3 separate regions of the Homo sapiens genome follow, and regions 1 and 3 are each linked to region 2. Evidence: fine-mapped expression QTL. A gene starts in region 2. Each other region holds a variant in brackets. All regions are shown on one strand. Distances are from middle to middle.

Region 1 (8,574 bases), 53 kb before region 2:
AAGCCATAGGGGCTGGTTTTCCGTACTCCAAACCATCAGGTGGACACAGTCCTAGGAACCATTATGGATGTAGTGCATCTTAGAGCCATAGAGCAGGTGACTGGAAATCTAACTCAGTATATTTCCGTGTATTATAGTGTTTTCCTTGTAAGGTTTTGCCTACTTTACCAAAGGAGGGGAGACCTTAAGAATTTTGACACAGTATGTCAAAAGTAATGTCAGCAAAGAACACTTTCGGAAATTGCTAAGCATGTTCAGGTTTACTTTGTTGATGTTTGTGAAGCAAAACAATGGGAAACTGACATCAGATGTCTTGAGAAAGCTATATTTTCCAATAGTACCCCTTGTGTAAAGTTACGAAAAAAACAAGCCCTTCAGTACTGGTTAGCAGGAAGAAATGTCCTACAAAAGACGAGTCTGTCAACCTAGTGCCTGTGTTCTGTACAGGGCTTATTTATTTACTGTTAATAAACAGATCTTCCAAAACACACAGTTACCTGGTTCACAGATAGCTGCTTTTTATTGACAAACAAGATCATAGTATTTCAGTCATGGTGTCAAGCACATTAATACTTTTCTGTTACTCAGCATTTTTTTTTATATCAGTTCAAAAGCTACTTTTGCCAAGAAGGATGAGACAAAAGGCCAGACAGAAATTGGACTTTGGTTTTCAGACATGGGACTCTCATGTTAACAAAGAATAAATAAGCAAATATTGAATCCTTTGTTTCTAAGTTAGTTTCTTCTGTATAAGATTAATAAACTAAAGGGTTCCTGAAGGGTTGGGGAGGAGAGAGGGTGGGGGAAATAGATTGACCCCAAATTCAGTGTGAACACAGCTCCATTCTTGTTTACTCTTCCTTTGGACTCCTACTTTTCTTCTAAACTCTCTGGGTAGATAATGTTATCCTTATTGGCCTTAGAGATACCCAAGATATTATAAAACCAGAGCTGTTATGTCTGTCACCAGCCCTGCAGGAATTATTCAGGAACCTGTGGTACATGTGACTTGTTCGAGGTAGAAATGTCTCAGCTAGATCCCCAAGTTGTGGGGTGAAAAGTGTGAACAGAAATGGCTGTAAAACTACTTGCCTTGCAAAGTCAAGTACATTTAAAAGAGGCAGAAACTTGGATGTGCTTCTTTTTTCATCATGCTTGTCAGTTTACGGGGTGAGAGAGGAGAAGCTTACAGCAGCTGAGGTGTTCAGATAAACTAGTTCTGGCCTCGCAGTTTTTGCTGTGCAAAAGATACACACATTGTTGGGGTTAAAGGCTTGGTTTTGGGTGCTACTGCTAAATATACAGTTTTCAGCACTTTACTGACATATAGTAAGGCTGCCTTAGAGCTAGGAAATAAAACTCAGTTTCCTAGATGTTGGAAAATCAGAGTATGAACTCTTTCGTTTTGTTTTTGTTAGGGGAGGGTGTGTCTACAACCTGTCTAGAGGAGACTGTCTAGTCTCCTCTGCACTCAATCAGAAGGTCTGAATTGAGGGGGATTATGGTATTATCAGTAAGGCAAAAGATGAAAGAAACTTTTTTTTACCTGCTACTCTTAGGCTAGGGCAAATGTCACATATGTACCCTCACCCTCAAACTAATTCCCAGCAGAAGTTTGCCAGAAGTCTCAAGGAGCATATCCAGGCCCACATGCCTGAAATAGTCTTCTGTGTTTCTGACTCATTTTTGGTGGTCTTACAGCAGCAAAAAGCAGAGTGCATTTGCTTGGTCTTTTACAAGAAGAAGGAAACAAATGATGGCCCACTACAGTGAACACAGCCTTCACCGAGCGCTGTCCAGTCATTAAAATGAGACAGGGAGGGGTCAGATTGGACCTACCTCCTGCCCTTGCTTGCACATTGCGTGGTACTGGGTTTGGCCTAAAGTCCAGTGTGAGGAAAACAGCTTGAATCTTAGCAGGTATAGCATGTTATCCTGCAAAGACTGCCCCAGAAGGGGCTGTACCAATGCCTACATACCAATAATGGGGAAAAATGAGTCTATTCTTTTTTCTCCAACTCTGTCAGCACCTTTCCCATTTGGGAAAGGCAGCCCAGTTTAGTGAGTTCTAGGCTTCTGACAGAGTGTAGGAGAATTGGAAATTTTAGTCCTATCCTGTTTAGCGACGTTCACAAAACTTCAAGTATAAATAAGACCATATACAATATTAAAAAATTAGCTTCTGGGCTGGGCGATGGCTCATGCCTGTAATCCCAGCACTTTGGGAGGCCAAAGTGGGCAGATCACCTGAGGTCAGGAGTTCGAGACCAGCCTGGCCAACATGGTGAAACCCCGTCTCTACTAAAAATACAAAAATTAGCCGGGCATGGTGGCGCACACCTGTAATCCCAGCCACTCCGAAGGCTGAGGCAGGAGAATTGCTTGAACCCTGTGGACTGGGTGACATAGTGACACTGTGTCCCCCGCCCCCCCCAGAAAGAAAATTAGCTTCCTTGAGAGTACCAGTGCAGAAAGCCTTAACTTATAGCACTGATGCCCTCAGTAACAGTGGATCATCCCTGTCTATGTCTAGAATCAGGTAGCATCTGGAGTCATTATTCTTATGAAAAAAGGAATAAATGGTTTTAACACTGGGTCTGGATTTTAAAAAGTTGAGCCCTGAAACATTATAAGGCACCTAGAGAGTAAAGGCTTCACAGAGACTAAAATACACATTTCACAGAACAAGAGTAGCCGGGGGCTGTTAGACCCGTCACAGTAGTATCATACCCTAGGATATATATCTCTAAATCCAGAGGCACTAGTGGTGTTGGGGAATCGGGTAGGAGAAATATTCACAGCAACGTTGGCCCCTTGGTAGCACAGGAAACAGAAGAAAAGAACTGTCGTCCATCCAGTTCCCACAGCTGGCAGGCTCCGGGTGGGTTGGTGGGGGGGTTCACAGTTGTAGTGCAATGGTTCATATAGCTGGCCATGATGAAGGT[A/G]GCTTCTGCAATCTAAGAGGAGGTCAGAGATGTGAAGGAATTGAACTAGCCTTGGCTTGAATCCTGGCTTTCTTACTTATTAGCTCTTATGCTGAGTTCCTGGGCCTCAGTTTATTTAATCTCTTAAAATACCCACCTGGGAGAAAATATCCAAAGGGAATCATAACTGTGCTGTTCAGAGGCCCAGTGGTGTGGGCTCCTGTTGGTCTGGAGATCCTCTCAGATGCACAGTGCCCTTCTGAGAAAAGGAGGCCCAGTGTTCTGCTCTGGTTAGCTCTACAACCAGGGAAGGGGCCTTCTTAAGAAAGGGATCTGGAGATCCTCCCCTTTAGCAGGGGTGGTATTAAAGGAGGAGTAGGTTTGGCAAACTCTAACTTTAGGATTAAAAAGGAGAACAACAGGGTTTCCAGTTAATCACACGGGAGTCAGGAACAATAAATCAGAACTTAGCCTTTGTAATTATTATTTTTGCTGGTCAACACTTCCTGTATTGAGTAGGAACAAAGTCACTAAAGCAAAAGAGGTCTTTTTGCGGTCTTCCCCACAACAAGGAAGAGGGAGCACTGTGGGACTGTCCCACTTTGTAGCTAATGTTGGGTCAGCAGAACCCAGGGGTAACATGCGAGCACCTTAAAGAGGAATCTGCCCTGCCTTGAGGACTGCTGCAAGGAAGAGAAGAGCACGTAAGCACCCAACTGAGGACTGCATGATGCTGGGGCTTGAGAGAATAAAAAAGAAAAAGTGAAGAGCATAATAGTAGCTAGGCCAGAGTTAGTTCCCTCCAAATATGTCCCTTTACCTACTAGCTGAACATTGATACGGAGATGCAACACCACCTGAACCTTTGGAATACTAATTACAGACAAGACCAACAATTTTATCTGGGCAGGGCCCTTGCAGAGCACTAGCATAACCCCAGTTTCCTTTCTAAGCTCCAAGCCCACCACATCTTGCCAGAGTAGAACGTTTTAACAGCTGTCAGACCTACCTTGGGAGCAGCCATCCGGAAGATCAACTTCTCAATGTGGCTTTTTCCAGAGCTCTTGTCTGGGATAGATCTAATCACAAGCATGAAGTCATCCCTGCAGCCACCAAACGTTGTCACTGAAGAGTAGGGGTAAGTGATGTGCACTTGCTGTGGAAAGGAACCAGTCAGTTGTGGGGAAACTTTCCACCTGTCCCCTGAGCTAGGAACCAGCATCCCCTGTCTCTTCTAGGCACAGGAAAGGAGAACTCCCAAGTGGTCATAATTTGGAGATCTCCATCTTGAATATCTACAAGCAGTGTCTAGACTAGAGGACTGGTGCTTGGGCAGGAGTGGGGGTAGGGCAGCCATGGTCACTTGGTTCAGGCTTTTGAGTCCACAGAGGAGAAGAAAAGACCATGTTGAGGAAGAGGAGGGGTCAGGGAGCAGCCTGCATCCTTTCATACCATAGTGTTGTGGTCCAGGATGCTGACGCCATCCTCATTCACAGCAATCCACACCAGAGCGTTCTCCTTGGAAGACAGCTGGGCAGGCTGGGGAAACAGAAACAACCCATCAGATATATCCATAGTTAGAGATTTTGAACTATAATAACTTTCTGAGAAAGAAGGCACATCCAGGGATCTGCTAAGCAGTGATTTCCAGCCACCTCATCTTGGAAAACAAAGATGATATTTGTACAGTGTATGCAGGAAATAGACAAGGCTGCTTGTGACAGGAGACCCTTGGCCTTGGGGCTCTGGCCACCTACTAACCATCTCAAAGGCAGAGGCGATCATTCTTTTGATGTCCCTAGAACCCATGCTGCCACAGCACACTGGATGGAAAGCTCTGTGCTACAGAATAGAGGCCAGCCCTAGCTGCTCTGTTAGGGGAATGGGGAACAGCTGGTTTTCTCCTAGTCTTGGAAACACGGCATTCCACCTATAGTCTCCAAGCCGAAGTGCTTCTGACTTCAGCCAATCTCCTAGGTGCTGTAAAAGAAATAGGAAAGCAAGAATGCAGTCCTGTGGCTTTAGGCCCTATCAGTAAGAAAGTGACTATTTAGTGGACATTCCTGTAATGACTAATTTTCACTGCCAGGACTACAGTATGGTAATCCAGAAAATCTCTCTCTTAACCCAAAGGGAGGCAGATAGACATTGGACATGCCACCTTTTTCAGAAGCTTTTCCTAAGCTCCCAGACCAAGTGGGTCCCTGTTATATGCCTTTATAACACCTCTGTACATCTTCATAGCATTTGTGATGGCTTATAAATATATATTAAATACATAGAGAAAAAAATGAATACGATTATTTGATGAATATACATCTCCTGCACTAGATGGGAAGCTCCAGGAAGGCAAGGACTGTGTCTGATTTTCTCACTTCTTATAACCTCAAACAACCAGCACTGGACATAGTAGGAGCTCAACTATTTGTTGAATGAATGAATGGCCATTTTCCGATCTGTGGCTTCAGTAAACAGGATCACTGCCCAGCTTTGAGCTGTAATTATCTATAAAGTTTATGCACAACAGACACCCAGTGAAGAAAAGTTCCTTCTGAAATTACTGTTGGCCACCTGGCCTTCATACAGAGGTGAAATTAACTGTTGGCTAAGTAATTTGATTCCCCTGTATGCCATGTCAAACCAGTGGAGATGTATTTGTTTAGGTTATACATTGTTCTTTCAAACTTTAAAAAAAATGAAAGCACTCTTGAGAGGGCTGTTATTTCAAGTCTGAATCTTTGTGTGTGTGAATTAGTTGATCACATCTTTTCTTTTGGGGCAGTCAACAAAGGACAAATGAAGATAAGCAATCACAATTCTGCTCTGGACTGTGGAAAGCTGGACTAGGCCAGAAACAGTGGAGGGATAGTGACCTCTGGTGGTTACTGGTATGGAGGTAGGGGCTGCAAATTGGTATGGCTCAAACATGAGCAGTTGGGGACACACCTAAGGGTGTGGGCAGCTCCTTCCACTGGCACTTACCTGAGCAGCAAAAAGTTTAGCACCAAAGAAAGGCCATTTCCTGGCCACGGTCAGGTAGATGCGGATGCACTCAGGAGGGGAGCATCCTTGCAATGTTGCCCATTTTGTGGTCAACATATCTGCCAGGTGCCTGGTGTGGGCAGATGGAGAGAAATAGTGCCAATGAAGTGCCGACGTGTCTTCATTCCAGGCCTGAGACCTCCCCACAGTGACTTGCTGCAAGACCTTGTAGCCTACCTACCTCAGCTGTTCAGCGGGGGCCCCATGTCTATAGCGCCTGGGGTGGAACCTGTCTAGGACCTGCTGGAGAAGATGCTGAGCCTTGGCAGGGGATGTGCCTCCAGGGCCTGGCAGGGCAGGCTTCTCCAAGTCCCCATATTCTACCTGTGGTAGAAGCATATGAAGAGACCAGTCAAAATCTGACAGTGGATGGGCCAGGTGGGGGCTGTTGAGAGGTGAAATAAACCATTTCTTTATTACCCTATTGGTGGGGTGCGAGTGGTTGTGAAAAATACTTTAGAAAAACGCTTCATCTCAAGTTTTATAGACACTAGAGAAACAAACTTAGGGCCCTCGAATATTAGAGATCACCGACCAACTTTGATTTTGCAGCTGAGGTGAAGTGCCTTTTCCAAAGACACAGTTAATTGGTAGCCGACAAGGGAAAACAATGTGGAAATTCTGGCTTCCAGTCCAAAAATATGGGCTATAGAATTGAAGATGCTACAGATCCTAGAGTACAGCAGAGTGTTCCAAATGTGGCCTTTGGAGTTGGACACCTGGCGCAAATCCCAGCTTTGTGTCCCTGATCAAGTTACTTAAACTCTCTGAGCTTCAATTTCCTCATCTATTAGGTGGGAATAAAAACTACAATGGAGGATGCATATATGCTTAGTACAGGGCCTCCTAGAGAGTATTCCTATTGATATTTATAAAGATCAACTATTACTGTTTCCTCTTCCTTTCCAGCATGTAAATCCAGATTCTTATTCTTTTTTAAAAATTTTTAATTTTTAATTTTTGTGGGTATATAGTAGGTGTCAGACTCTCTTATGGGAGTCATGAAGGTATCCCAGATACCTTTGGCAAGATGGCCTTCTAAATATAATGGGAAGGAGAGTCCAAGTCTGAATGTGTGTTCCTCTTCCTAAGTCTACTTAGAAGGTCTGATGGTTTATGAAGTTTACCACATACATTACATGATACAATTATCCAGGTATCATACTTAGTACAACCCTGTGGAGGCTGGCAGAGGTTTTTGTTTGTTTGTTTGTTTTGTTTTGTTTTGAGACAGAGTTTTGCTGTTGTCGCCTAGGCTGTAGTGCAATGGCATGATCTTGGCTCACTGCAACCTCTGCCTCCCAGGTACAAGTGATTCTCCTGCCTCAGCCTGCCGAGTAGCTGGGATTACAGGCGCCCACCACCACACCCAGCTAATTTTTATTTTTATTTTATTTTATTTTATTTTTTTTCAGTAGAGACAGGGTTTCACTGGTCAGGCTGGTCACGAACTCCTGGCCTCAGGTGATCTGCCCGCCTCGGCCTCGCAAAGTGCTGACATTACAGGCATGAGCCACTGCTCCCGGCCAAGTATTTTTTATTTTGGTATACTGAGAAGGAAACTAAAGCATAGAGAAGTGAAGTGACTTGGCTAAGACCTCATAGTTGGAAGGTATATAGGACTCAAACCCAGGTCTCTGGATTCCAAGTCCAGCCATCTGCACGCATCCTATATCTGCGGTGAGTGAGGAGCTCTGATCTGTAGAAGTCAGCTGCTTTCCATCCCAGAGATGGCAAAGCTGCCCTCTCCTGAGCACCACAGGATCTGCAGAATCTCTCCTGTGTTTCAGGCTGCATGGTGCATTCATTCTAAGCTGGCAACCCGACCCTCCTGCTTCCTGAACAGAACCTTACCTGGGCCATCAGGGCAGCCATCTCAAGAGCCAATTCCTTGTTGATAGGAAACCTCCCTGCCACTATCTCTCTACTGGTTTGAGAGGCAAGGAGCAGCCGTTCTCGGTCCGTCTCCCCTTTGACTTGACTGCGAAAGTACAGCCTACAAAGAAGAGAATAAGAAACCAGGACTCAGCAGGGATTCCAAACAGGGATGGGGCTTTCTCTGGGTCTGTTACCTTTATTTCCAAAAAGATAAAGTACTCTTTTCCCACTATTTATGAGCCTATTTTGTATTGCCTCCAGAAACATATAACCGAGTATGACACAGAGCAGATGCAGGGTCATGCTGATCTCATACCAACAGGAGGGCATGGTTCATTCTGAAGATACCATTAAGCTTACTGGATTTAGTAAGGGAAATCTGGTACCTGGAGTTATAGATTAGGGGACTGGATGAGGTAAGAGTCCAAGAGACTACTGGAAACTATTTGCCTGGAGACATACTGAGATGGAGGGATGGGATTTTCTTACTCAAATTGATAGAAAGTCAGGATGTCTACTTCTGTATTTCCTGGAATTGGTATAGGAAGTACTTAGTCTTTAGCTATAACTAGCTGGTGCTTATACAAAATTTCACTCTCATAAAGTAACACACTTAGCCATCCCATGAGGTTGGTCTATTTTCTATTCTTTTCTTTTTTTTGAGGCAGGGTCTCACTCTGTTGCCCAGGCTGGAGTGCAGTGGCGTGATCTCAGCTCACTGCAGCCTCAA
Region 2 (10,979 bases):
AAGTCCCTCTGTCCCCAATACCCCGCTAAAATTACGATCAGCTGTTGGCCAGTCTTATGAAACTCATAGTTTTCTTGATTCTGCTGGCACCCAGCCTGCTAAACTGCTTGGCAGGTGAATCAAAAAACTGCCATAGTCTTGATACCTGCTTTGGCATCCCCTGAATCCTCCAACACCCGGGACTGAAATGCCACAGCAGTCAGTGGGGATATGCCCCAGAGGCAGGGGCTGGGAGTAGGATGGGTGGGAAGGTGGCACAGGAAGTCATTAGGTGACTCCAGACTCAGAGTCTGTATCAGAGAAAACACAAATTTGACCTGGGATCTCTCTGGCAAGTTTGAGGATTTTGAGCAGAAACTGACAAAATGCTAAGATTACTTTTTTTTCTTTTTCTTTTGAGACAGGGTCTCACTCTGTTGCCCAGGCTGGAGTGAGTGGCACAATCATGGTTCACTGAAGCCACAACTTTCCCAAGCTCAGGTGACCCTCCCACCTCAGCCTCCCAAGCAGCTGGGACTACAGGCGTGCACCACTGTGCTTGGCTAATTTTTGTATTTTTTGTAAAGACAAGGTTTCACCATGGTGCCCAGGCTGGTCTCGAACTCCTGGGCTCAAGTGACCCACCTGCCTCATTATTCTAAAGTGTGTTGAGCCACTGCGCCCAGCCTAAGATTAAGTTTTTATTATTATTATTATTATTATTATTATTATTATTTTTGAGATGGAGTCTCGCTCTGTCACCCAGGCTGGAGTACAATGGTGCAATCTCGGCTCTCTGCAACCTCCGCCTCCCGGGTTCAAATAATTCTCCTGCCTCAGCCTCCTGAGTAGCTGGGATTACAGGTGGATGCCACCACACTGGCTAATTTTTGTATTTTTTGTAAAGACAGGGTTTCACCATGGTGCCCAGGCTGGTCTCGAACTCCTGGGCTCAAGTGATCTACCTGCCTCATTCTTCTAAAGTGTGTTGAGCCACTACACCCAGCCTAAGATTAAGTTTTTATTTTATTATTATTATTATTGAGATGGAGTCTCGCTCTGTCACCCAGGCTGGAGTACAATGGTGCAATCTCGGCTCACTGCAACCTCCGCCTCTCAGGTTCAAACAATTTTCCTGCCTCAGCCTCCTGAGTAGCGGGGATTACAGGCGGATGCCACCACACTGGCTAATTTTTGTATTTCTAGTAGAGACAGGGTTTCACCATGTTGGCCAGTCTGGTCAAACTCCTGACCTCAGGTGATCCACCTGCCTTGGCCTCCCAAAGTGCTGGGATTACAGGCGTGAGCCACCACTCCCGACCCCAAGATTAAGTTTAATACAAACAACTTTTAAGTGAGTCCTGTGTGCAAGATTGGGGATATAAAGATGAATAAAGATATTGTGGCTTTTGAGGCTCAAGTCTACAGCCTGAATATCCTGGTAGCTCCCTACAAAGGTAGCTAATCAATACAGGACCCTAAAAGAAAGAGGTCAGAGGTCACCACAGGCCTCAAAATAGCTCATTGCCTCTATCTTGTGGAGGATGCAGGAGGCATTGGAAGGCAACGGGGCTTCTGTTATATGCACAGTTTCCACTGGGCTCTCTCATATTGCCTCAGTATGGTTCATTCCCTGAGTGTGAGTATCTGTATGACTTCCACTTGCTAGTGAGGGGCTACCACCATCTTCTAAAAGTGCTCTGCCAGACGTGGCTGACTACTTGTCAATTGTGGGAGAGAAACAGCTTTGTGTCCCGTTTCTGGGGATGAGGCTGGGAGAAGGGTGTGAGTGTACACAGGGACAACTTCCTCTGATCTCAGCACTGTCATCTGATCAAGCTAACAACATCCATTTGGCCACTGCTGGGTGCCTACATGACATTCCACACAATGTCCGGGGAGACAGAGAAGGTGAGCATGTCCTAGGCCGCAGGAACCTCAATACCAAAAGAAGTGGTCAGGACAACCAGGTACAACATTCCTTGAGAACAAAAACAGCAAAGAGAAACAGCTTAGTACCTAAGATCCCATGCTCTGGCACTGACAGGCCTGGGTTTGAATACGAGCTCAGGCACTAAATAATCCTGTGGCCTTAAGCCATTTGCTTAACTTCTTTGAGACTCAGTTCCATTCTGAAATTGAGGGCAGTAATATTTGAAAATCAGGACAATAATATTTGGTTGAACCATATGAAACCGTCATTTAACCATTTTCCAACCTTCAAAATGGCCATTTCATATATCACATCATGCAGGGCTTTTTGAGAATTAAAGGAGATATTACAAAAGCCTGGTGCACACTAAGTACTCAATAAATGACTGTTATTGTTGTAATCAGCAAACAAAGGCAAACCAATAGCATCTAGAACATAAAAGGAGATGTGGCCCAAAGATGTGCTCACGAGGCTGGGCACGGTGGCTCAAGCCTGTAATCCCAGCACTTTGGGAGGTGGAGGCAGGCGGCTTACCTGAGGTCAGGAGTTCAACCAGACTGGCCAACATGGTGAAACCCTGTCTCTACTAAAAATACAAAAATTAGCCAGGTGTGGTGGCGCATGCCTGTTAATCCCAGCCACTTGGGAGGCTAAGGCAGGTGAACTGCTTGAACCCTGGAGGCGGAGGTTGTAGTGAGCTGAGATTGCACCACTGCACTCCAGCCTGGGCAACAGAGCGAGACTCTGGCTCAAAAAAAAAAAAAAAAAAAAAAAAAAAAGATGTGCTCACTACCAGATCTAACTCTGGAGATCTGGAGAGGAGGTCATATGATTTTTAAAGTTATTTTAGAACATTGAACAAAAGGGTATATAGTGCAAAGTAAGGCTTCTTCCCATGCCTGTACTTCAGCCATAGTTCTCCCCAGCGGCAACCACTGTTACAGGTTTCTGTGTGTTCTCTCAGAGATATTCAGAGCATCTACAGGCATTCATATGTATGTGGCATTCACACACCCACCCAAAAATCGTGGCCCACCATACACACTGTACTCAACAATATAACTTAGAGATATTCCTACATCAAAGTATATATCTGCCACATTTTCTCTGCACGCTTTATAACAGCTTTAATGTATCCTATCGTGTGGCTTTTACATGATCTTATTGAAGGGTTCCTTATTGATGGACATCTAGATTGTTTCCAACCTTTTGCTAAACAATGCTGCAATGAATATTCAATGATGTACACCATTTCATATACATCAGAGTATATCTGAAGGATAAAGTCCCAGAAAATGGAATTTAGGGGTAAATGATGTACACTTTAAATTGCCAGACATTTCTTTGGATTTTTTTTTTTCTATCAGGAATGGGAGGAACATGCTCTCCCCTACAGCTGGTGACTTCTGAAGAGGGCAGAAGAGGCTCCACATTTTTTCAGCTTAGTTGTTAGTTTCAATGAGTTTGGGGCCACAGGCTGCACCCCACAATTGCCCAACTCTGAGCAGGCCCCCTCAGCAGTCTATGGGAAGGTGGTAGAAGTGGACTGAACCATACGTTAGGAATTTAGGAGGCTTGGGTTTCAGTTATGGCTCTTCCACTTTTTAGCTATGTGACCATGGGCATATCACAACAATTTTTTTTTTAACAGACAGGATCATCAGCCTCCCAAGTTAGCTGGGACTACAGGCCCACACCACCACACCCAGCTAATTTTTAAATTTTTATTTATTTGTAGACACAGGGTCTCCCTATGTTGCCCAGGCTGGTCTTGAACTCCTGGCATCAAGCTCTCCTCCTGCCTTGGCTTCCCAAAGTGCTGGGATTACAGGCATAAGCCACTGCAACTGGCCTAAATCACAACTTTTCAGAGTCCCAGCTTCCTCCTTTGGAAAAATGGGGCCAATAATATGCAGAAACACTAATACCGATGTTCTATAAAGCGTTCAGTGATGGTACTAGCCCTATACACAGTGTCTGTCACATAGAAGACAGTCCAAACAGTTTGATGAAGGAACTGATAATTCTCCCACTGAATTTTTTAAATGGTCTTTCAAGTGTTTTACCTGAACCAAGGCTCTGTCTTGGAAGAGTTTTATGAGGTGGATTCATAGTAAAAGCTATGGAGGAGATATCCTGGCAAGCAGAAATCCCACAAGGAGAGGAGTTTCCTTCCAGATGAGGCTCTTCACCGCCTCTGCCACCCCCACTAAGGCCCCTGGTTCCTGGTGACCGAGTCCTCGCTAAGACTCCTAGGACACAATGCTCTGTGTCATTCGGCGCCCAACCTGTTTTCTTTTCTGCTTGAATGACCTGCTCCTAGGAGTCGAGCCTGAGCCATAGGGTCCCAAAGACAACACTCAGAAATCACAGAAGAAATAACCTGAGGTGAGATGGGGAGGGGTGCGGGAAGGGGTGAAAGGGAGCGAGCACCGATAGCAAGGTGGCAGCCTGCACGTCCGCTCCGAGGGCCCTTCCCAGGAGCGGCTGGATCTGACCGATCCCCAAGTCCAGGTACTCCCGGGGGAGGCTCCTCCTGGCCTCGCGGCGCGAGTCCCCTGGGGCGCCCGGCTTCCCAAGCCAGACCCGCGCTCCAGCGCTCCCCGCCGCTGGGAGCTCGCTTCCAGGTAGGGAGGCACCTGCTCCGGATCGTCCTCTGGGCCCGAGGGGCCGTCCCCCGCGCGCAGCCTGACGCCCTCCGCCGCGGCGCAGCCCCAGCCCACCACAGCGGCGGGAGCGCGGGTCGCTCACCTCCAGCGAGCTCGCGGCCGTCCCCGCCGCGCACTGGGCACACGGGCGCCCTCGGGCCGCCGCCGCAGCCGACCTTGCGTCGCTCTCGCCGGAGTCCCGGGCTGCCGCCGGTTCTCCCCTCCCCGGCAGCAGGGGTCGTGGGCTGCGGGGCGGGGCGAGGCTGGAGCGGGAGGGGTGCCCGCGGGCTCGCTGCACAAAGCCCGGCCGAGCCTTGCTGCGCCCCATTCAACGCTCCGCCGGGCGCCCTCCTCCCCTCGGCTCCCCGCCCGCTCCTTAAAGGCAGAGCGCTGGGCTCAGCTCTCCAGGCAGCTCGCGGAGAGGCACAGGAAATGACCTCAGCAGGCTCCAGCCTCCCACTTCTCCGCACCGCTGGGCTCGTCCCTGGGGCGGCAGGGAGGGCGGCGGGGTGTCCCGGGCGCCGGCCCGGAGCTCTCCGAGGAGGCCGCACCAGCTGCCGCAAGGGGTGGCCAGAGCGCCCCGGGGATCTGCTTGACCCCAAATAGCGGGGGACCCTCGCGGGCTGCGGGACAAGACCAGACCGTCTCCGCCAAAGGTTCCAGCATTCTCCTGGCCACCTGTGGGAACTGTAACGTCTGGATATTTGGAACAGAAGTCCATATTTCAGTCTGGCAGACCAAATGTTCTGAGTTGCAATTTGCAGGAGAAAAAGAAAAAATAAGTTACGACAGCCCAGAGAGTAACTTACTTGCTTATTTTCTGGTCTCGCTATGTTGCCCAGGCTGGACTCGAACTCCGGAGCTCAAGTGATCTTCCCGCCTGGGCCTCCAGGCCGGCTTATGTATATGTTATTTTAAAGGAGGGCCCAGGAGGACCCTGGCTGCCAGGCAGTTTGCAGGGCAGTCATCAGCGTGCCCATGTGCTCCTCGTTCTCAGACATTTGCAGATCTCAGATCGCCCAAAGCAATCTCATACCCAGAGGGGTTGGAAAACTCAACATTTGGCTAGGTGAGCCTGGAGTAAAGAAGATGCAAATAGAGACCATTGCAGGGAGGGATCCACACTTCAAAACAGAGCCTTCTTCCTCAACCCTGCAGGCTCTCTGTCAGTGAAGGACTGAACAGAAGCAAAATACCATCAGCGCCTGTTTCTCCAAATGGTCCTTGGAAGACTCATCCCAGGCACCATGAAGAACACCCCCACCCTGGGTTTGAATCTGAATCTCTAACTAAAGTACCCCAGGCCATTCTCACGTAGAAGTTTTGAGAGCCCAGACACTAAGGAAAGCTGGTAGTGCAGGAGGCCAAACGTGAGAATTTAACTGGGCCAATGGGACTTCAATGGCTGAACTTGCAAACAGCTTTATAGCTCGTGGGGATTGGGATAGATTAGCCCCATTTTGTGGGACAATGCTCAGGCTATCCACTTCAACATTCCAGAAGTTGCATAAGGAAGCCCAAAAACACGTTCTCTGGATTTTGCTAAGAAGACATTAATTCATTCATTCACTTTTTTTTTTTTTTTTTTTTTGGACATAGGTTCTTCTTGTTCTGTTCTCCAGGCTGGATTGCAGTGGCACAATCATAGCTCACTGTAACTTGAACTCCTGGGCTCAAGCAATCCTCCCATCTCAGCCTCATGAACAGCTGGGACTATAGGCACATGCTACTATACCCAGCAAAAAAAAAAAAAAAAATTTTTTTTTTTTTTTAGTAGAGGTGGGGTCTCAAACTCCTGGACTCAAGAAATCCTCCTGCCTCGGCCTCCCAAAGTGCTGGGATTACAGGGATGAGCCACCGCACCTCGGCCCAGAACTCATTTAATATAACTTTGTTATATAGTGAAAAGAGACGCACCATGGAGAGTGGAATGGGAGGAGCATGCTCTCCCCTATAGCTGGTTACTTCTGTAGAGGGCAGAAGAGACTCCACATTTTTTTCAGCTCAGTTGTTACTTTCAATGAGTTTGGGGCCATAGAGTGCATCTCACCATTGCCCAACTCTGAGCAGGACCCCTTGGCAGTCTGTGGGAGGGTGGTAGAGGTGGACTGAACCCTACATTAGGAATTTAGGAGGCTTGAGTTTCAGTTATGTCTCTTCCACTTTTTAGCTATGTGACTTGGGCAAGTTACAACTTTTGTTGTTGTTGTTGTTTTCTTTTAAGAGATAAGATCTTGCTCTGTTGCCTAAGCTAGAATGCAGTGGCAATCATAGCTCATTGCAGCCCAGAACTCCTAGGCTCAAGCAGTCCTTCTGCCTCAGCCTCCCAGGTAGCTGGGACTATAATACCCACCATCACCCCTAGAGCCCCTTTCTTTGGATATTAGCTTATTATTACAAGTGACCTGACAAAGGAGAATGGAGGATGGAACAGAGAGATGGGAAGAAAAGCCATCATGTGCCTGAGTTGAAGGATATGCTAGGGCATTCTTGTGAAAGAAGATGAGGCCGGGATGGGGACTTGTCAACTGGTCTGAGCCAATTTAGTCCTTCAATGATTGTATTAGCTGCCATGGGACGTGAGAGGTGAGAGGAGGCCATTCGTCTTCTTTTCTGTAATCTCCTGCAGGTGGGATATTAAAAATAGTTAAGGCCAAATTCTGCCAAATATACATGTATTGGCAAGCTGGCACAAAACAGTCACACAGCCTGCTTCAAGAAAATGGGGCAGTTGGCCTGCTCTGGCTCTCACACTCCATTCATGCAAGGGCAAATAATCTTCCTGGCCAACTCCATGTTTTGAAAACTGCTTATTTCACCAATAAAAGATTATTTCTAGCATCCCTCAAGCACATTAAGCCCTTGGGTGTATATTTTGATGTTGTTTGAAGTGCTTATGTAACCATTTTCTGGAGTGCGGATTCCTGATTAGGGCACTTCAGATGCTAACTAACCACTCTAGGAGTTACAGGAGAGTCACTTTATATACACACACTACATGGTTTAGGCTGGAATGTTTAAAAAATAAATTCCTACAGAGTCAATATTACAGCATCTTAGTCTGGGCCTTGTTCCTTGGACAGCACTATGGGAGGGAAAGGGGAACTTGGAACTGGCCAGAGCTCAGTTTAAGCTTTATCACTTAAGTGGTGGTGGGACCTTGGGGCAGTTGCTTAAGGTTTCTGAATTAATTCCATGTTTGTAAAATAATGATGATAATAATTCTGGCCTCTTAGGGTTGTTGAAATGATTAAATGAGATAGTATGTTGTCTGGCATGCAGCAAGTGATCTATAAATGGAAGCTTTTGTTATTTATTCTTTGAACAAATATTGGCTGGAGTTTACGAGAGATCTTGTAAATCTCTGTTTACAAGATTGCAATGGATAAGCAGATGGCTTGAGAGACAGGAATAACTCTAGGAGAGCTGGTGAAATGGTTGACAATTCATCTTCCCTTGTACGAGCCTTCTAGAAACCCTGCTTCCCATCCCTACCTGCTTTCTCTGAGCTCCAAAGAGACCCTCTCCTATATCACCAAAAAAGCCTCAAATCAAGGGATCCCCTCCTCCTGCCTTCAGGACCTGGTTCTCAGTTACTGTTGGAAGGGGAAGAGAGGGGAGAAGAAGGAGAAGGGAGTTTCAGACTCCCAGGAAACTTGGGGCCAGTCCTAGTCCAGGCTTCTGCTCTCTGCCTTGGGTCACAAAGAAGTCAGGAGGTTACTTCTACTGCTGAATCTTTGGGAGCAATTTGGCTCTTCGGTGATTGTCAGGATTAGCCACCATGGGACATGAGAGGTGAGGTAACCATGGGTTAGAGCAGAGTGTCAAGAGTCACCATCTAAGTGGGGCTAGGAAGGCAGTGATTGGACATGCAGAGAAGGGCCAGTTAGGAAGGAAAGGAAATGGCCCAGTGGCTAAATCCTCAGTGTGTGTGTGAGCGTGTATATGTGTGCATGTGAGATGGGTATGGAAAGATGGGAGGAAGTGTCCTAACTTTAAGTATGGACTCTTCTTTCATTTATTCATTCAGTTACTCACTAACAAATATCTATTGAATACTTGCTATTTTCCAGCCACTGTGCTAGGAAGGAAAGTGTGGCAAGTGTGACCTATCAACTCTGGGCACAGGCTTTAGAACTAGACATGCCTGTCCTTGAATCCTGGCTCTTCCACCCAGGGGACACAGGGTGGAAGTAATGCAGTTACCACATACATTCACTGCAAATAATCTGTTCAGTATACCTGTGGGTATGGGAGCCAGAGAGAGCCAGGCAGCGGATGGGGAGGGGAGGGAAGGTGTTCCTCGTTTGTAAATCAGGAATCAGAATTCCTTCCTTAGAGAGTTATTATAAAGATGGAGATAAAGGGCCTGCCTCAGTGCCTGGCATATTATTGGAATCTAGTAAATATTATGAAATGAGGAGGGAACTTGAAGGTGTAGAGGTGTAAAGGACTAGCAAGGCGCCCAAAGACTAGGGAGCTGGAAAGTACCCAGGAGGAGCAGCATGGAAGGAGGGCCTGGTGGAGAAGGATTCCAATGAGGAGGTGGGCAGTGATTCCAAATCTAACCTCATGTCTTAAAATGCTGATCTGAAAATACAGATTCCAGGCCACCTCTAGCTATTCAGATCAGTGGGCCCAGGAGTCTGCATTGTCACGCACCTGTCTGGGGTCTGTATTGACTGGTATGCCCTTGAGTGATTTTTCTCAGAGAGCAACTGCCAGGGCGGAACTGATGTAATTACAACACATATCAATGCAAAATGCTCTGTCCGCTGCAGCTGCGGGTTATACGGGCAAGAGAGAGCCAGGTGAATGGGGGCTTAATGGGATAGGGACAGGAGAGGGAGGGAGAAAGAGCACCTGAGTTGGGAGCTGGTGGAGCTCAGGGAATGAGGATCAGGTAAATCCAGCCATCTGACTGCAATTCTAGATCATTTTAGAGTTTGCAACATCCTAGTTTTAAAGCAGCTGTCTTATTTCTCCAACAGCTTTCATCAAAGATGAGAACAATGGCTGCTCACATCAATTGGGGGAGGGAGGAACTGGGCAGGGACCAGCTTTAAGTAGGTGGCAGGTTCTCCAACAGCCCAGGGAGCCTGTGTGGGGAGAGACTAGGGCTCCAAGAAGCCAAGGAAACCCAGGCCTGTCAGAGAGCTGCCAGTGACCCTTTACTTTTCTGGGACACATGTGTGGCCGCTGTAGACAATGGGTTTTCATGCTGACAGTGGGGTTCAACTTCCAGAGTTCAAATTCCAGCTTTGGCACCTAGCTCAGTTCTTGGCACTCAGTAAGTACTCAGTAGATGCTGGTTGTTATTATTATCTCCTCAGCAGAAGACAGACCCAAGCCAAGAGAAAGGAAAGTCTCCCAGCCCTACCTCACCCTCACACTCCAATCTATCTGAGTCCCCACCAGCCCATCTCAGAGCTGAACTACGAGAGGTCCTGTGTTCATACATTCATCATGTGCTTGCCGAGTGTCCACAGTGGGCCACTGTAGGAGAGGGAGAGCGTGGAGGAGTAGGTGGCTCAGTACAGGGCAACTGGACTTTGGAGGGCCTCTTCATGCTCCTTGACCTCCCCTCCTCAAAGCCACTACTTTCGCTGACAGGAAGAGGCCAGAGGTCTGGGGTGGGGTCCTACATGCAGAGCTGTGAGTGAGTTCTTGCTCAGCCACTACTTTGCTCCGCAATCTGAGGACATCTCAGCAACTCTTTGTGCCTCACCTAACTGTAAAATAGAAGCAGGACCTTCGTGGCTGCCATCCTCAGCCTGGAGATAAGGAATTAATGGACACTTCACCAGGGTCATGCTGGGGAATGAGGGGCTGCTGCGGTACAAAACACATTGTTGGTTTATCTGAGAATTGCTGAATGGGAATAGAAGCAACTTCACCAAAACACACCGGGGACACAGCCAGCCATTGCAGGGCACTGCAAACAAATGAAATCTTTCTTTCTAATCTCCTAATTAAAAATCGAAACATTTAAAGCCATATTTATTGAGGGCTGACTTTGTTCCTGACCCACTAAACATTTTAGGAGGAATCATCTTTTTTTTTGAGATGGAGTTTCACTCTTGTTGCCCAGGCTGGAGTGCAATGGTGCGATATCGGCTCACTGCAACCTCCGGCTCCCGAGCTGAAACAGAGGAATCATCTTAATTCTCACAATTCTCTGGAGCTGAAGCCATTTTTATCTCCATTTTATAGATGCATAGACTGAGGCTCACGAAGACCAAGTGTCATGGCTAAGCTCAGATAGCAAGCAAGTGGCCAAGCCAGGACACAAACCCTGCCCTGCCTGACTCTAAAGACCACGCCTTTAGCCACTCAGGTCTTGCCTCTGCTCAGGGATGTGTGGGTTCCCTTGCGGGGCACCTTCCAGGCTGAAAGGTTGCAATGAGTGAGCCACAAGT
Region 3 (10,979 bases), 34 kb before region 2:
TCGGAGCTCAGTGAGGACATGGAGACGCCTTGCCGAGGGAGGAGGAGTCAAGGCCCGGGTCCCACACCTCCCCGACTCACGCAGCCCAGGAGCTGCTGAGACTTGACCACCCACCCGGGACCCGGTCTCTGGGGCTGGGGGTGGAGCTGCTGGGGGGTCACGAGCTCAGATCAAGTGGGGACGCCCATGTTCAAGTGCCCATGGGAAGAGGTGAGGGGCTCCTTGCTGCTGCACCCTGCCCCTGCTCCCCTTCTCTGTACCTCTCTTGATGGCCCGGGGGCTGCCTAGTCCGCTGGTCTTCCTGGACTCAGAGGAGGGGACCGAGATTCGGAAACTCGCCTGAGAGCTGCAGTCATCGTCAGACCCAGAGGACTCGTCCATAAAGGGCATGTTGCTGATCTGTGTAGCTCTCTGCAAGACAGGCCCCTCCCTCACTGCAGCTCAGGCTGCAAAACAGTCCTCTCCCAACCCTGCAGCTTGCACTCCTGGTCCAAGTGCCCATGGTGTGGCCAACCCCCAGCCGGGACTCTGAACAGACAACTGTCCAGTGTAAGGTCCCTCCTGGCCTCACTCCTGTGTCATGACCTCCATGCTTCTCAGGCCTCCCTTCCCACACACCATCTTCTGTGGTCCCCAAAGCAGCTGCCCATCACGACTGAATGCCTGCCCACTGTGACCCTCGCTCCTTGCCACTAGGGGGCCAGAAAGCTACACCACAGACTAAGTGTGCCATGCGAGCTTTAAAAATGTGTGGGGACGTCGCAACAATCAATGATTGCATCTCCATTGGCAAACATTTAAAGTGACTGACTATCTCAGTGTTGGTGAGAGTATGGGGAGAAGATGGGGGAAAAAACTCTAGTGTGTAAGGCATTTTTAGAAGGTAATTTGGCAGTACCTGTCAAAAATTAAAACATGTATATAATTTGCCCAGAAATCCCACCTCTAGAACTCTGTCCTACAGACACATGTAGATATAAGTTCCCAAAGATATATGTGCACAGTGATGTTCATGGCAACATTCATTTTAGAGAAAAACAGGGACACAGACTAAATTATTATTGGAGGAAAGCTTTAGGTATTAATAGTTATGGTGCTTCGATACCAAGGGTACTGGACACCTATAGAAGGAGGAGGTAGGGGCCAGGCATGGTGGCTCATGCCTGTAATCCTAGCACTTTGGGAGGCTGAGGCAGGCGGATCACAAGGTCAAGAGATCAAGACCATCCTGGCCAACATGGTGAAACCCCGTCTCTACTAAAAATACAAAAATTAGCTGGGCATGGTGGTGCGCGCCTGTAGTTCCAGCTATTCAGGAGGCTGAGGCAGGAGAATCGCTTGAACCCAGGAGGTGGAAGTTGCAGTGAGCCAAGGTTGCACCACTGCACTCCAGCCTGGCAACAGAGCCAGACTCTGTCTCGGAAAAATAAAAAGGAGGAGGTAGGGAAGGATGACCTGACACGTGGTTATTCACGTGGTTAGGGGAACAAGCAAGGCATAGAATGACATGTATATGAGCACCTTTTGTGTGCACACAGGAGACAGTGAGAGTGTGCTGCATATTTATAAATGCATCGGAAGGCCTTACTGAATAAACACTAAACCATTCATGATAGCTTCCTCTGGGCTTAGGAATTAGGGAAAAGCGACGTGAGAGGAAATTTCACTTTTGGTTTTTTATTCTTCTATAAAAAATTTTATCAAGTATTACTATTATTCAAAAACCAGTAACAGAGACAAAAATGTGTATGAAAATATTGCAATTCTATCTGATTTTTGTTTTTAAAATGTAGTGACGTTACGGGAATATAAGTTGGAATATACCTCAGTAATTCTAGAAGGAGCCCCACTGCCCTCTGGGACCTGAGGAGTGAGGCAGACATGAGAAAAGGTGGGGAGAGCTGTAAAGCGGGCATAGGCTTAACCTTCTTACCTTGTCCACGTTCATACTGATTCACATTTTTGTAAATGTGGAATTTTTATAATAACCTAATAAACAATAAAACAAAATGACACGTGCTGGGCTCAGCTCCCTGGGCAGGGTCACCATGTGCAGAAGCCTGGCCCTAGAGCCCCGCCCCAGTCATTGGATGATGAGGCCAGGGGCCTTTCCTGATGAGACACCCCCTCTTTGTGCAGCAGTTTCTTACCCCCTTCAGTGCTGTGTAGACAGGCACAGTGACATTCTTGTAGACCAGGCCAGAGAAAGACCCAGGGGAAACAAGGGCAGGAGGGCTTGAAGCTGAGCAGGGAAGAGAGGAATGAGATTACTCAAGGGCATAACCCAGGAAGGGGTGTGGGGGAAGCAGAGAACTGGGCAGATGGCATTCCCTCCAGGAGCAGGCCAGTGACAGATCTCAAGAGGGGGGCCAGGGCCCTGTTCATCTTCTCCCCTTGACTCCCTTTGGGGACCATGATCTCCATGTGGTAAAGGATCCCTCACAAAAGAATCCAAAAGCCTTACCTTTAACCATTTTTTCCTCCATGAGGCTTGCACAGTGTTCCACTGTTGCAGATGTGAGTTACAAATCATACGGCTATGGGACCACCCCACAGCCCTCGTTGTGGAGATTTGGTGGCTGGCTGGAGAGGAGCCAGTGAGTGGGGTTCATGTAAATCAGGACACTTGTGGCTCCTCCCACCCACGGCCCTGGCACTGCAGAAGCGAAGCCTGTGCAGGTGGGAGGCTGGGCTGGAGGCCCCCTCTCAGATCCCTTCCAGCTCTGTGACTGGCTACTTTCCTGTGATGGGCTGAACCTGTACGACTTCCCTTTCCCTCCTAGGTGGGACTTGCTGTGATTTCACCTGAACTTCACCTGCTGGGGAGGGGAACAGGGTAGGCCAGCCAACCCTGGCCCTGGGTGTTGCTTGGAGTCTTCTCCTCCCCGCTTGCCCACCCTGCCCACCTTGGGTGTTTGGTGCCTCCAAGCCTCACTTGGAACTCACCGCAGCATGCAGTATTACTTCTGGGAGACATATCTGAGAGCCGCATGCCCGATGTGGCCACAGCATAGATCCGGCTCTCCTGAAACAAGAGGTCTCAGGAAGCTCAGGGCCCGGCATGATGCCCATCCCACCCCCTCCAGGCATGTGCAGGAAAAAGCATGGCTTTGGGGGTGGGCAGACCTGTGGGGGGCAGTGACTGGCTAACAAATCTTGGGCAAGTTACTTCATTTCTGAGACTCATTTTCCTCTGCTCTAAATGGAGGTAATAATACTTACCTTTCAGGCTGCTGTGAGAATCAATGAAATACTTAACATAAGCATTTAACACCTGGAATATAATCAGTGCCCAACAGTTCCCTCTCTTGCCTCCACCCTTCACCTTTGGGGCAAAGGAGGTTCAAGAGAAGATGGGTCAGTAAACTGTTGCTCTGAATCCTACCCGTTTTAGAGACCCTTGGGTCTCAAGATCTAACCCCCAGAAGTTGGGGATATTGGTAATGAGGAAGCCACTGCGGCCACACGACAAGGGCTCTTTTGTAAGCCAGTTGTTTGGAACTTAGGGCACATTTTTAAAAAATTCTCTATTGTTTCTTTTTTTAAAAAATAATTTGTTTGTTTTTTAAGTTCCAGGGTACGTATGCAAGATGTGCAGGTTTTTATGTAGGTAAACGTGTGTCATGGTGGTCTACTGCACCTAACAACCCATCACCTAGGTATTAATCCCAGCATGCTTTAGCTCTTTTCCCTAATACTCCCCCACCGCCACCATCCACTGACAGGCCCCACTAAGTATGTTCCCCTCCCTGTGTCCATGTGTTCTCATTGTCCAGCTCCCACTTGTAAGTGAGAACATGCAATGTTTGGTTTTCTTGTTCCTACGTTAGTTTGCTGAAGATAATGGCTTCCAGCTCCATTTATGTCCCTGCAAAGGACATGACCTCATTCCTGTTTATGGCTGCACGGTATTCCATGGTGTATATGTACCACATTTTCTTTATCCAGTCTACCATTGATGGGCATTGGGTTGATTCCATGTCTTTGCTATTGTGAGTAGTGCTGTGATGAACATATGTGGGAACTTAGGGCACGTTTTTTCCCCTGCAGGAATAATGTCATATCATGGCTAGGCTTCAGGGCCAATCTACAAAGCCTATTTAGCCCAACAGGACTCCAGCACCCCCATGCAGAAGACACTGGGAGAATGCCCGTCCTGAGGGGGCCCCTGGGTCTGAAGTAGGCCACAGGCCAAAGGAGCTTTTCCTAATGGCCCTGACTGCTCATAAACAACCCACAGGGTTCCCTGCACCTTCTGGATCTGTTTGCTCCACTGAGCCTAAAGGAAAACAAAGGTGACGTGAGTCACCAAGGCTGACGAGGGAAGGTTGACCAGCCTTTGGAGGAATGCCCTGTTGGCTCAGGGAGGTAGCTAGATGTGCTGTCACCTGGTGGGGTCAGATGGGCTAGGAGATGGCATTGGAAGGGAGGTGGGTGCCTATCAGGGTGTCATCCCAGAGGGGAGCAGCAGCCCTGGGACAACTGGGAGGAGAGAGGGCAGAGCTGATGAGTGCTGCCATGAGACGCTGAGATCACTGGAGGGGCGGCAGGAGACAGAGGGGCGGTGAGGAAGGATGCCAAGGAGGGCCCTGCAGCAGGGCAGGGAGTTTCTGTGCTCGTGTAGGGCAGATACATCGAGCCCAAGTAAAATTCGGCATAAAAAGGATTATTTCTGCCCAGAGTGGTCATGGAATTTAACCAAGGACAAGCCTCTAACTTTGCAGAGGAAATGAAACTGAAGTTTGAAGGATTTAGGTAAAACGAAACCTATGACTGTTTGACAAAATGTTATCTAATGCCTAACTCACAAGGTTGTTTTAAGGATTAACTGAAAAAAGGGCTTTCCAAACTCTAAGATACATAAGTATTTCTCACACCGTCAGATTGAGAAATGTTCTCTGACATTTCATTCCCCCACCGCCCTCCCCAGATGGTTACTGCCCCATTGGTCCTGCCTGGGAGAGAGAGAGGCTGGGCTTCTGGCCACTGTGATTTCTTAAGCTCTCCCCGGAACACG[GAACACGA/A]GTGATCATGCCTCAGGGGCCTGGGAAGGAGCTAGCATTGTGTCTTGTTTTCCCCAGGAGCAAGTTACAAAGGGGATTGCAAACAGGATGAGATCTCCTTACATTCTTTTGGCTGATTCTTGGGTCCTTGGGGCCTAGCTGGGGGCAGGGAGGTTCTGTGGGAAGACCTGACGCTGCCCCTTAATACCTTAATCCCCTTAATACCTTCATCACCAGAGTTCAGCTGAGGTTCCTGGGGAGAACGTCATCTGATATATTTTCTATACAGAATAAGAGGAGACAATAACTCCTCGTCTCCCCATTCCTCCTCTCCTCCTCCACCCTCTCTCTCACACACATACACTTAACCTGTTCAGATAGAGAAGACCCACTCTTTTTTTTTTTTTTTTCAAGACAGGGTCTGGCTCTGTCACTCAGGCTGGAGTACAGTGGCAAGATCTTGACTCATGGCAACCTTCACCTCCCTGGGCTCAAACTTAACTTCCACTTAAGCCTCCTGAGTAGCTGGGACTACCGGCATGTGCCACCATGCTCAGCTAATTTTTGTATCTTTTTTGGTAGACATGGGGTTTCGCCGTGTTGCCCAGGTTGGTCTTGAACTTCTGAGTTCAAGCAGTCTACCTGCTTCTGCCTCCCAAAGTGCTGGGATTACAGGTGTGAGCCACTGTACCCGGCTCAAGACCTACTCTTAAGCTATCACAGTGAATGGCTGTATTTTGGCAAAATGGCAAAGTGAGCAACGCTTCTCTCTGGTAGCAGCTGCACATTCCTTGCCTGACTACTTCCTGCTCCCAACCTCTGCATTTGGACTCCAGAGCAAGAAGAGAGCCAGCAGCCCAGGGGGACCAGTGCTTTTCCATCCCCTAGTCTTCCTGATGTGCCCCACTCTTGGCTCAACTGGGTCTCCAGTCTTACAGGTGTCCTTGAAACAACCAGAAGCTGATCAACAGTCACTGCCAAGGATATAGCCCAAAAGTCTAGGGCTGTGTGCCTCCCGAACCAGCATTTCTTTGTTTTGTTTTGGAGATCGTCTCCTCTGTCGCCCAGGCTGGAGTGCAGTGGCGCAATCTCAGCTCACTGCAACCTTCGCCTCCTGGGTTCAAGCGATTCTACTGCCTCAGGCTCCCGAGCAGCCAGACTATAGGCGTGCACCACCATGCCCAAATAATTTTTGTATTTTTAGTAGAGATGGGGTTTCGCCATGTTGGCCAGGCTGGTCTCGAACTCCTGACCTCAAGTGATCTGCCTGCCTCAGCCTCCCAAAGTGCTGGGATTACAGGCATAAGCTACTGAGCCCGGATTTGAACCAGCATTTCAAAAGGAGGCCCTGGGAGTTACTGCTGGAAATACAGGTCTCCCGAGCAGTGGTGTGGGGTGAGTCCACCCTGATGTCACCCCCTCTCCCAAGTGACCTCATTCCTCCTGCTGCCAGGAGCCAACGCTTAGCTGTCCCCCATGGTACTGCTACACACCCCAGCAGCATCTGTGGAGGGGATGTCTGCCCATGAATCAAAGACTGACCTTAGCTCTGGCAATGTCCCTTAAGAGGAAGTACAGCTGGAATGTGAGAGCTGGGCTTCAAAGCAGCTGGAACTACATTTAAAGCCTGGCTCTCAGACCGGGTAAGGTGGCTCTTATGGCTGACAAAGGAGGATCACTTGAGGCCAGGAGTTTGAGACTAGCCTGGGCAACATAGGGATACTCCATCCCTACAAAAAATTTAAAAAATTAGCCAGGTGTGGTGGTGTGCACCTGTAGTCCCAGCTGCTCAGAAGGCTGGGGTGGAAAGATCCCTTGAGTCCAGGAGTACAAGGCTGCAGTGGACTGTGATTGTGCCACTGCACTCCAGCCTGAGTGACAGAGCAAGACACCGTCTCTCAAGTAAATAAATAAATAAAGCCTGGCTCCCTCACTAACTACTACATGACCTTGGGCAAGTACCTAAGTCTGTGGGGAACAGTGGTTTCCTGACCTGTAAAAGGGAGAAACCACACCTTACTCCTTGCAAGGAAAGGAGCCCTTCCCACAGGCTCCGTGCGAAGCCCTTAATACCCACATGCCATTTTCACTAGTGACCTGTGAAATGTCATTTTTATAGCCTGTCTCATTTTTATTTTAACTTTTTATCATGGAAAATGTCAGGTACAGGGCCAGACACAGTGGCTCACACCCGTAATCCCAGCACTTTGGGAGGTCAAGGTGGGAGGACCACCTGAGCCTGGGAGTTCGAGACCAGCCAGGGCAACAGCATAGTGTTAGCCCATCTCCACAAAAAATTAAAAAATAGCTGGGCATGGTGGTGCATGCCTGTAGTGCCAGCTACTCGGGAGGCTGAGGTGGGAGAATTGCTTGAGCCCGGGAAGTTGAGGCTGCAGTGAGCCATGATTGCACCATTGCACTCCAGCCTGGGCAAGACTGAGCAAGACTCTGTCTCAAAAAAAAAAAAGGAAAAGAAAAAAAAAATGTCAGCCTGGCCAACATAGTGAAACCCTGTCTCTACTAAAAATACAAAAATTAGCCAGGCATGGTGGTGCATGCCTGTAGTCCCAGCTACTTAGAAGGCTGAAGTAGGAGGATTGCTTGAGCCCAGGAGGCAGAGGTTGCAGTGAGCCAATATTGCGCCACTGCACTCCAGCCTGGGCGACAGAGTAAAACCCTGTCTCAGTTAAAAAAAGAATGATCTCACGTGCCCATCGCCCAGCTTGGCAAAGGTTAATGATGTGTGGCCAGTCATGCTTCATCTGTGTCCCCACCCTTGGCCACCAACCAGATCATTGCTTCTGAAGTATTTCTACCAGACAGATATCAAGACATTTTATCCAATGTTACAAGTAAGGAAGCTGGCCTGGCGCAGTTGCCTATAATCCCAGCACATTGAGAGGCCTAGGCAGGTGAATCACTTGAGGTCAGGACTTTGAGACTAGCCTGGCCAACATGGTGAAACCCCGACTCTACTAAAAATATAAAAATTACACTTTGGGAGGCTGAGGCGGGCGGATCACGAGGTCAGGAGATCGAGACCATCCTGGCTAACATGGTGAAACCCCGTCTCTACTAAAAATACAAAAAATTGGCCGGGCGTGGTGGCAGGTGCCTGTGGTCCCAGCTACTTGGGAGGCTGAGGCAGGAAAATGGCGTGAAACTGGGAGGCAGAGCTTCCAGTGAGCTGAGATTGTGCCACTGCACTCCAGCCTGGGCAACAGAGCAAGACTCTGTCTCAGAAAAAAAAAAAAAACAGTTAGCCGGGCATGGTGGCACACACCTGTAATTCCAGCTACTTGGGAGGCTGAGGTGGGAGTACCACTTGAACCTGGGAGGCGGAGGTTGCAGTGAGCCGAGACCGTGCTACTGCACTTCAGCCTGGGTGACAGAGCAAGACTCTGTCTCGAAAAAAAAAAAAAAAAAAAGCCAGGCTCAGTGGCTCATACTTACAATCCCAGCACTTTGGGAGGCCCAAGAGGGTGGATCACCTGAGGTCAGGAGTTTGAGGCCAGCCTGACCAACATGGTGAAACCCTGCCTCTACTAAAAATACAAAATTAGCTGGGCGTGGTGGTGCATGCCTGTAATCCCAGCTACTTGGGAGGCTGAGGCGGGAGAATTGATTGAACCCAGGAGGCAGAGGTTACAGTGAGCCAAGATCATGCTATTGCACTCCAGCCTGGGCAGTAAGAGTGAAACTCTGCCCCCTCACCCCCACCCCCCAAAAAAAAGAAAAGAAAAAGAAAAACAAAGAAAGAAAAATAGCCAACACTTACCTACCACCTACTGTGAACCACTACTGTAAGTACTTTCACAACAACCCTATAAAGTAGGTACTATTATCCCCATTTTATAGACAGGGAAGCTGAGGCACAGAGGTTCAGTAACATGTCCAAGGTCACGTAGTTAACAGTTCAACCCTAGTGGTTTGCTTCTGGGGCCTATGCTCTTGACCATCATACCAGACCACCTGAAAGACTCACAAAGATTAAATGAGAAAAGGTATGCAGGGCACCCAGCTCAATGTATGGTGCACGGTGAGCACTCAGGAAATGACAGCCAACCGCCATTCACATCATTCTGAATTCTGGCGCTGACCCTCACTGGTTGTGTGGTCTGCACAGGCTCCATGGTACCTGCCTGCCAGGGCCACCATGAGGATGCCAGCAGCCTCCTCTCCTGCTCAGTGCATGGCTGTGCTCAGCCAGCAGTGTTCTTGCCATTAGCTCTGCTCCTCTGCCCAGCCCGGAGGTTGCCTCTTACCCAGGATGAAAACTGGTGCAGCGGGGGTGTAGGTGGCTTGTTACCCAGCTCCACTTCCTCCAGCTCAGCTCCAAGGGCCTTTGGGCTCTCTCTTTCCTCATTCTTCCCTGCTGGGGGTGGCTCCTCCATCTCCATCTTCTCTGGTTCCTCCCGGGACCTAGCTCGGGACTCCAGCTCAGGAAGGCCAGAGGGGTGGAGGGCTGAGAAGGCCTCAGTCTCAATGTTCACCACACGGCCAAAGTGCCCATGGCCCACCTGGGGCTGGCTGTGGTGCCTTTTGGCCAACTGGATGCTGTCCCGCGGGGTGCCAGGAGCCCGCACCTTTGGTAGGGTCAGACTGCTGCCAGGACCACCTTCCCTGGCAGAGGTCTTTGTCCCAGGGAGCATCCCTCTCTGAGCAGTAACCAGACCCTCACCCCAGGAAGCTGAACTACATCTGAAGGTAAGAAGCTTCATGCATGGCTGGTGGGGAGGGCTCTCTCTTCCCAGATGAGGTTGAAGGGGCTTGGCCTCTACTGTTTCCCCAGAATGGACCGTGCTGGAACTAGAATCCTCCAAGGGGCTTGCTGCTTCAGAAACAGAGTCCTTGCTCTGCAGGGCACCTGGGGAAGGTGCAAGCACAGCTGCCTTCAGACCCTGGGCCTGGGAGCCACTGTCCTGGCCCATAGGCTGGATTCCCGGCTCTGAAGGGACAGAATCCTGCTCTGCAGCTCCGTAGGGGGGCACCAGCAGCTTCCGTGAAGGAGCTATCTGAATAGCTGTGATTCGGGTAAAAACAGTCACATTGAGAGCTCCCGTAGCTCAGCCCCATACCCACCAAACACACGTACTGCACACCTGCACACCCTGGCCTGCCTACCTTCTAGCGCATCTTGAAGGGATCCCACCTGCTCCACCAGGCGCTGATTATGGCTTTTCAGATGCTGATTCTCCATCTCAAGCTGAGCAAAAAGAAAAATGAAGATTTAGGACACCCAGCCTACAGGTTTAGATGTATTTTTTCAATTCTTTTTTTTTTTTTTTTTGAGACAGGGTCTTGCTCTGTTGGCCAGACTGAATTGCAGTGGAGCAATTTTGGCTCACTGCAGCCTTGACCTCCCAGGCCCAACTGATCCTCCCACCTCAGCCTCCTGAGTAGCTGGGACCATAGACACACACCACCAGGCCCAGTTAATTTCGTTTATTTTTTTGTAGAGACAAGCTCTCGCTATGTTGCCCAGGCTGGTCCCAAATTCCTGGACTCAAACGATCTGCCCACCTCAGCCTCCCAGAGTGCTGGGATTACAGGCATGTGCCACTGAGCGTGGCTGCTGCATATTCTTTTCTTTTCTGAGACAAGGTCTGGCTCTATCACCCAGGCTGGAGTGCAGTGGTGCAATCTTGGCTCACTGCAACCTCTGCCACCAGGGCTCAAACCATCCTCCCACCTTAGCCTCCCACCTCAGCCTCCCGAGTAGCTGGGACTACAGGTGCACGCCACTATGCCCGGCTAATTTTTGTATTTTTTGTAGAGACAGAGATTTGCCATGTTGGCCAGGTTGGTCTCAAACTCCTAGTGTCGAGCAATCCACCCGCCTAGGTCTCCCAAAGTGCTGCTGGGACTACAGGTGTGAGCCACTGCCCCCAGCCTGCATTTTCCTTTAAATTAAGTCCAACACACTTTTATTGAGTATCTTTTAGCAAGGGTTGGGACTGTGAGAATACGCAGGTA

Direction of the effects. Positions count from the first base shown, and alleles are read on the strand shown. Sizes are in standard deviations (SD) of each study's normalised expression.
With allele A in place of G in region 1, the expression in sun-exposed skin of the gene that starts at base 4,772 in region 2 is higher (small effect, 0.12 SD a copy in GTEx).
As copies of A replace GAACACGA in region 3, the expression in minor salivary gland of the gene that starts at base 4,772 in region 2 goes down (moderate effect, 0.54 SD a copy in GTEx).

The links. PIP is the estimated chance that this variant, and not a neighbour inherited with it, causes the effect. A credible set is the group of variants that fine-mapping cannot tell apart.
Region 1: its variant is the best candidate, but not a certain one, in a credible set for the expression of PLEKHH1 in sun-exposed skin (GTEx, PIP 0.82).
Region 3: its variant is the best candidate, but not a certain one, in a credible set for the expression of PLEKHH1 in minor salivary gland (GTEx, PIP 0.63).

The regions. Positions count from the first base shown.
Region 1 is chr14:67,581,457-67,590,030 of GRCh38, reverse strand. PLEKHH1 (pleckstrin homology, MyTH4 and FERM domain containing H1) reads right to left here. Exons shown (of 29, transcript NM_020715.3): 24 at 7,821-7,962; 25 at 6,148-6,290; 26 at 5,907-6,036; 27 at 4,377-4,463; 28 at 3,934-4,080; 29 at 419-2,957. The coding sequence ends at 2,796. It overlaps PIGH (phosphatidylinositol glycan anchor biosynthesis class H), which reads left to right. Exons shown (of 4, transcript NM_004569.5): 4 at 1-713. It also overlaps a transcript of GPHN not described here. Among named protein-coding and RNA genes, the nearest start is that of PIGH, 15 kb to the left of the region's middle. RefSeq lists a silencer at 5,703-5,752. The variant A/G (reference allele first, on the strand shown) is at 2,946.
Region 2 is chr14:67,527,083-67,538,061 of GRCh38, reverse strand. It overlaps PLEKHH1 (pleckstrin homology, MyTH4 and FERM domain containing H1), which reads right to left and starts at 4,772. Exons shown (of 29, transcript NM_020715.3): 1 at 4,664-4,772. It also overlaps a transcript of GPHN not described here and a transcript of TMEM229B not described here. RefSeq lists a silencer at 4,679-5,148.
Region 3 is chr14:67,561,184-67,572,162 of GRCh38, reverse strand. It overlaps PLEKHH1 (pleckstrin homology, MyTH4 and FERM domain containing H1), which reads right to left. Exons shown (of 29, transcript NM_020715.3): 6 at 10,128-10,209; 7 at 9,269-10,026; 8 at 2,947-3,025; 9 at 2,151-2,242; 10 at 261-411; 11 at 1-28. It also overlaps a transcript of GPHN not described here. Among named protein-coding and RNA genes, the nearest start is that of PLEKHH1, 33 kb to the right of the region's middle. RefSeq lists an enhancer at 517-696. The variant GAACACGA/A (reference allele first, on the strand shown) is at 5,018.